2 linked regions of the Homo sapiens genome follow. The protein of the gene in region 1 interacts with the protein of each later gene in a pairwise test. Each region holds a gene or a part of one and is shown on either strand. Other genes may lie near its edges.

Region 1 (3,831 bases):
TGAGATAAACAATAAGTTAAAATGTTGACCTTGGATATGTTATGTAATTATATGTTACAATTTAATTAATACAATAATCACTTAGAGACTTACAATAAAACATTAAATGTATTACATGTAAAGACATTTACAACTGTATCGGATATTTAGTAAGTGCTCGATACTATATATTTGTTATTGCTTGAAAATTAAAGATTGGTCATACCAAATGCCCACAAAAAAAAAGAAAATAGCTTTACAAAATAGAAAATCTTATTAATAAGAGAACTTTGCATAACATGAGTTAACAATTCCTAATTTGAATTGTTATGAAATTATTACTTTATGAAGTTATTTAATTACACTTATATTCAAAAAGATGATGTCTAGAATATTTTAAGCTCTATAATTTGTTGAAAGTGTATTTAATTAAAACAATTTACATTTCAATAATCCTATCTATGATAACTCTAATTTTCCAATAATAATGTATACCAGAGAACAAAGCATTACATCTATATATTGTAATAATAATTTATTTTGCATAATTGATGAATGAAAATATATGACATCTCTAACACACATCACCACTATATGTTGCAGTGAGTGCAGTCACTGAAAAACGAAACATCGGGGTAAATTTTGAAGGCTTTTGTTTACCACGTTGAGAACGAATACATAGAACTAATAGAGTTTGTTAAAGAGGAGAGTAGTCATATTTGTTTATGCGAAAGACTACTCAATTATCACTGTGGTTGATGCAGAAGAGTTACAGTGATTGAGAGAGAGAGAGAGAGAGAGAGACAGAGACAGAGAAACCGTCTTATGGCAGGGGAGCCAATGAGAAAACAATTCCATCATCCAAGGCAGATAAAAATGAGCAGCATTTGGAATAGACAGGGATAGGGCCAGATTAGAGATTAACATTTATATGAATTAATGCCAATTAAACGTTGGAGAAGAAGAGTTCCCCAAGAGAAAGATAAATTTTTGGTGTCTAGCCTGGTGAGAAATTGATGATATCATTAACTAAGAGTAGGTGAAGGATCAAATTAAATGAAGAATATAATTATTCTTGTAAATAATCTGAGCTCTGTGGATTGCTGGTGTGACCTTGGGCAGGTGACTTGTTCTCTCCATGCCTTAATATCTCAATGTATTTTTAAAAAACTTAGAACTGCCCACATGACAAGCTTGTCAAGATGCTTAAATTGGAGTATTCATTTAAGGCAGTGGTTCCCAAATTGGCCTGTATTTTGGAATCACTGGGAGCTCCCTGTCTCCAGAGATTGTGGTTTAATTGGCCTAGGGTATGGCCTGGAATTTGGAATTTTCAAAAGATCCTCAAGTAACTTTAACATGCAGGCAAGTTAAGAAACTTCTGATATAAGGAACACAAGCCAAGATATGGCATTATGTTAGGAAGAAAACAGATTATAGCCATCATCAGAGGTAGGGATTGCAGGGTGCAACCATGAGATCGAGGATAGAAACTGGGGACATCCAGATTCCAAAGTGGGTCCAGGAATACAAGCCAGTGAAGGAGGATAACGAATAAGGAGGAATGAGGAAAAGTAGAGAAAAGCAGAGTCATAAAAGTCCAAAGAAACATTTTCCAGATAATAGTCCACAATCTTAAAAATAGTAGAAAGGTGCTGTGGCATGGAGACTGTAAAGAAATCTAGTGGATTTGGAAATCAGTAGGCTACTGGTGATCTCAGCCAAGAGCATTTTCAACAGAGGGGTGAAAGCAAGAACTAGACTGATAACATTCAGTTCAGGAATGTAGAGGAAGTAAAGAATTAAACAGAAAATATTCTTTCAGCAAGTCAGACAAATAAACGACAGGATACTGTGGTGTGGTTTTAGCCAGGGGCAGTATCCTAAAAAAAGTGATTTGAATTAAATTGGAGGAGAGAACAATGAGGTTAATATTCCAGGGAAAGAACATAGTGGATAAGAGGTAATGAGTCAGGTTCAGGAGGCAGGTTTGCTAGGGCTGTGTCTGGTAGTCAGTTGATGAAGGAAGAAAATGGAAAATTAGATTTGATATGAGCATCATATAATATTAGAGCAGAAGGAAGTACTATAAATTTAGAAATCTGCATTTTACTCATTAGAAAAAAAAATATCTATCTTAAGCCTAGGTAGTTATAATACTTACCCATGACTATTCAAGGGTATAGCGAAGGCTCGTGAATAGAGTAGGGTGACCATATAATTTATTGCCCACACATGGATATTTTTGAGAGTGTTAAAATGCTAAACTGAACAGGAAGCTAGGACAACAGTTATAAAACCTGGACATATGCTCATCTTGCTTATGAGGAAACAGAAATGTGCTTGGAGGAGCAGTGAAGGCAAAATTGGTTTTTACATCCCTTTATGTATTATCATGGTAATACAGAATACTGTATTCTTAGCCATGTTGTACTTGCAGCCAGCACTGGGCCTCTGGGTCTTTGTGTTTCACCTTCTCCCAATCTAGGAGAGTATTCTTTATACATTAGACTCACAATAAATTCTCTCATCATTTCTCTATTCATCAGCTCTGTAATCTATTTAAAAATTTTAAAGGTTTTGCCAGCATTCGTACCCTTCACTTATAAATGCTCACTTTTATTTTAAGCAAGAAAGAGCCATCTGACTGCTATTCATAGCAGACAGCATAACCTATGTCCCCATATGTGCCTACAGCCAAATACTGTGATTGTTGACATCTCAATGATCATCATTTTTTTCCCCAAAGCTTTAGTGTTCCCACTGAAAGCAGTGCTATCTAGAGGCCAACCTTTCAGACAAAATAAAAAGTGAAATAACTGTTCTTTTGCCCAAAGACTTCAGACAAACACTCAACCATTCTAAAGGCTTCAAAATGCCATAAAAATTGGCCACAACCATTTGATCTTACACTTTTAGTGCAAGTCAATTTTGTATCAAGAACTGCAATACAGAGTATTCAGTCTGTTATTTTTATTACAGATACTAAAGTATTCCTCTAACACCATAGTTATGGTTAAGAAAATATATTCTGTCAGGGACTGCACCAGTTCAGGGGGTTACAGGCATGATGATAAATCAGTGACAAAGAGTTGTGATTTCAAGTAATCTCAAACTTAAGCAGCTATAGTAAACAGAATGATATCACTATGGTTAGATTCCCACATTTTATTTAAGTGCAGCCACCTTTTTTTTTGGTAAATGACAGCATTGTCCATCACTATCTGTAATCCCCAGCATAAAGGAGATGCAGACATCTGAAACCGCTCAGTTTCAGAGATGGTCCAGTGAGTCATATATCAGACGATGCTCTGATTTGTGTCTTCTTCGAGAATTTGGAATTTAATGGGGTTATATTCAGAGTGGGTTTTTGTTTGGGTTTTTTTTTTTTTTCTGGCTTTGGGTTTTTAGTTATATAAAAGACAATAACAAAGTATTTTACATGGTTTTTATAAGAACTAATCATAGTCAGTGTTTACAATTATTGTCTTCTATAGATATCAACACACTTTATATCTTATATAATTTCTATTAAATGCATACACACACACACACACAGAGAGAGAGAGAGAAATTTGTATTTATTTCATTGTATGGAGGCTGTGAGATGAAAACTTTTTCTGTGATAGGCCCTTTTCTCTCATCACCTGTTTCTCATCTATACATGACTTGTTTCTCTTAGGGGCCGTGGGGGTGCCATTCCTCCTCCCCCACCACCTGGACGAGGTGTTCTCACCCCTCGGGGAAGCACTGTAACCCGTGGAGCGCTTCCAGTGCCACCTGTAGCAAGAGGTGTCCCTACCCCTCGAGCCCGGGGGGCACCAACAGTGCCAGGATACAGGGCACCTCCTC
Region 2 (3,690 bases), on another chromosome or scaffold:
AGAAATGGAAAGGGATTATGGAGAAAGAGAGAGATACCCATTAGCTACAAAGGTGGCAGAATCAAAAGAACTTGAACAGAAATTTAGCTATGAATTATTCCTTATTTCAAGTAATAAACGTAAAGTCAACCATAAAGTGTTAAGCATTATTTTCCCATTTATCAAGATTAACTTAGTAAATCTACTCTGCCAATTATTTTAAAACACTTTTATTTGTAAAAGGGATAAAACTGCTCTCAAGGTCATTAAAATGCCAACATAATAAGAACCTCAAAATAAAAACTGTCAATGATTTCCATTTCACCAAATGAAAAACGTCACACTTATAGCTATTAATTTATGTCACTGATTCTGTACCCATAGTCTAAAAATCAACTGAAATATAAACATTATGAAAATCAGCACTTTTTAACAAAATGCATTAATTTCTTTAGTGTCTTTTAAAAATAAATGCATTTCTTGGTAACAGCAAGACGTTACATTTGTGTATGCTTTAGTTTATAAAATGTTTTCACATATAGTATTTCCTTTAATCATCTTGCCAAGGAAAATCTAAAGGATTATCTACGAGTGAATAATTTTGTTCACAAGGGGCTAAGGCAGGTGTCCCCAACAGGTTCATTTTGGTCCAGGGGCTGATTGAGGGCATGAACTTTATCAATCACAGGCCAAAGACCCTGACCTTGGGCCTCTTTCCTCTGTCCTTTCCCCACAACCTCCTCAGAATTGCTATTCATTGGTTTCTAGATTTCTGGACCCCCAAAGAACCTAATTCTGATTTCCTGTGGCAAGCCTTCCAAGTTGAAAGCTAACTACCATGTGTCCCAACTCTTCTGCTTGCCAGGTATCCATGTCTGCACCACCCTCGTGATTCCTCTCATCATGAGGCTTCCAGACCCTTTAAGGACTGAGTAGACATTTTCCAATAGTGTTTCAGTGCACTGCTGTCCTTCTTAAATGTGGCACTCAGAATGATACAGATGCCGGCTGAGATTTCATCAATGAGAGTATAATAACGAGGCTTTGAATTTCCTTGTCTCAGAATCCTTTATTTCTTCTAATATTACCTAGGCTGAATTAGCAATCTTAAGAACACATCATACTACCGTCTCATACTGATCCCAATGGCAACGAAAACCAGGGTAACCATATTTTATCATCTAGTTTAGGACTCTCTTCAGGGAATAGAAGTGCTAATAAGGTCACAGAAACAGCAGGCATAAACTAGAACTGTCCTGGGTACACTGGGGTGAATGGTAATGCCACCCAAAGTTCACAAGTCTTCTTTAAGTTTAGCTTCTATAAAAGCCTGATTTTAGACACAGAAAGACAAACATCACATGTTCTCACTTGTTTGTGGGATCTAAAAATCAAAGCAACTGAACTCCTGGAGACAGAAAGTAGAAGGATGGTTACCAGAGGCTGGGAAGGGTAGTGGGGGGCTGAGAGGGAGGTGAAGATGGTTAATGGGTACAAAAAAAATAGAATGAACAAGGTCTAGTATATGATAGCACAAGAGGGTGACCATAGTCAATACAATTTAATTGTATATTTAAAAATAACTAAAAAAGCATAATTGGATTGTTTATAACACAAGACATATGCTTGAGGGGATGGACACCCCATTTTCCATGATGTAATTATTATGCATTGCATGCCTATATCAAAATATCTCAGTACCCCATAAATATATACACATACTATGTACCCACAAAAAGAAATTCTAAAAAAAAATACTTTACATATTATGTGTTATATGCTGAATAGCTGAGTTCTTAAAGTCAAATGCAGGACTTCCTATTTTCCTATATATAAAATTATGTATGTATTTATATTTTAGTTTCTGTTTCTTGTTTAGTCCATTTTGGAACCCCAACTGTTACTCAAAATCCTGATGAATGTTTATTTAAAATAGATCAAAATAATGACAGAACTATCAAAGTGTGAACCAACTGTTCCCTAATTTCAAGAAAATCATTATTCAAAATCTCCATTAATTTGACCACTCCCAAAGCTTATGTGATGAGTTCTAGGCTACATAATACAAAAATCTCAAACTAAAAATGTTGAAACTAAAAGCAAAATCATCTAATTTACGGCAAGCCAATACATAAGCAGTTCTCTCAAGTGGAAATCAGATCAATAAAGCCCAACACACAAGCCCTCAATAACCTAGCTATTCATATGACAAATAACTCAGTCTATATGTAGCAATCTACTTTGAAGTTTAAAATTCACTTGGGTGATATCAATGAAATTGCTTCTTAACCACTACAACTAGTCCTAAGAATTATAAAGATAACGAAGACAAAACAGTGATCAAAAGCTTAAATTGTTTTAATAAAATTTCACTTTCATTTTCCAAAGTTTCAGCATACTTTCAATTTTTAACATCTGATGAGCAGGAAACTCAGTCAGTGAAAAGGTACATATACAAAATGTGAGTAAAAAATGTACAGTCTGGCCGGGCATGGTGGCTCATGTCTGTAATCCTAGCACTTTGGGAGGCTGAGGTAGGAGGATTGCTTGAGCCCAGGAGTTCAAGACCAGCCTGGGCAACATAGTGAGACTCTGTCTCTATTTAGAAAAAGAAAAAAAAATAAAAAAGGTACAGTCTGGACACAACTTGACCATGTAAGCAAACATGAGAAAAGAAACATTCTGAGTTATAATAAATGTAAAAGTTACAGTCTATGTTTTGTTAGTTGGATTTTTAAAAATGTATTTGCTGGTTTTGTTTTCCTAATAAATAGTTTAACACATATTTTTAACATATCCGTTCTCTAAAACAGAGATTTTCAACAGGGAAAGCATGGCCTTCTGGTGAGGGAGAAGAAGGAAGGGAGATTAGAAGCCTATCAAAATGTCGGCAGGAGCACACATGTATAGCTGGAAGAACTATTCAATACTTATTTCTGTAATGAAAACTATATTCATTCTACAAACTTTAGAAAGTAAAGCCTGAAGTGAGGGTGAGAAAACACTGATGACTGTGTTTAGAACAGGTTGAGAAAAGATGATCCCAAAGGAACTCTGTAGGGTAGGGCAATAAAAATAGGTATGGCTGTAAAAATGACTTGCTTTTAACATGACCATTCAGTTTGTACTGGAAGAACTTGCTTACCTCCATGGAGAAGCGCTGCTCGGCAGTTGGTGGACACCGCAGCCTTGGCGTCACTTTCAGAGAGCCCAAACAGCAAGCCTCTTGGGGGAGCATTAAAGATTTCAACCCAGAGTCACCCAAGGACACGAGACTAACACAAACATAACAGAAAGTGCCAGCTAACCTGGTCATCTTGAGAGGCTAATTAATTCAACAGCAGTTCTTAGTCCAACTGGAACATGCATCTGAGAAAAGACTCATTTAACTCTAAGCTTTTATCATATGAAGTCCCTCATTCCCTCTTTTCTATCTCATGATTAATTAAAAAACAGAAGCATAAAGCTCTCTATAATGTTATATAATTTATTTTTGAAGTTATTAATTGGTAAACTTACAGTAAAAGGTTGAGAAAAATACATGTTCAACTATAATACGACTTCAAATTCAAAATTTCCTGAAAGACAATGTCAACAACTTTTTACTCAGAAAAGGATACAGATTTGCCACGTCATATGGCCCTCTTATTTCTAAAGGCTGAAATAAAATGAACAAAGAGTAGATATGAGAAAATTATTTATAACATTTCA

The links.
Region 2: the proteins of KHDRBS2 (region 1) and RPP30 interact in a two-hybrid assay, tested with the Homo sapiens proteins (one large-scale study listed by BioGRID).

The regions. Positions count from the first base shown.
Region 1 is NC_000006.12:61,894,664-61,898,494, reverse strand, and holds part of KHDRBS2 (KH domain-containing, RNA-binding, signal transduction-associated protein 2), read left to right. Parts: intron 1-3,661; coding exon 3,662-3,831. UniProt on the Homo sapiens protein: RNA-binding protein that plays a role in the regulation of alternative splicing and influences mRNA splice site selection and exon inclusion. Binds both poly(A) and poly(U) homopolymers. Phosphorylation by PTK6 inhibits its RNA-binding ability.
Region 2 is NC_000010.11:90,895,827-90,899,516, reverse strand, and holds part of RPP30 (ribonuclease P protein subunit p30), read right to left. Parts: intron 3,638-3,690; coding exon 3,600-3,637; intron 3,205-3,599; coding exon 3,125-3,204; intron 1-3,124. UniProt on the Homo sapiens protein: Component of ribonuclease P, a ribonucleoprotein complex that generates mature tRNA molecules by cleaving their 5'-ends. Also a component of the MRP ribonuclease complex, which cleaves pre-rRNA sequences.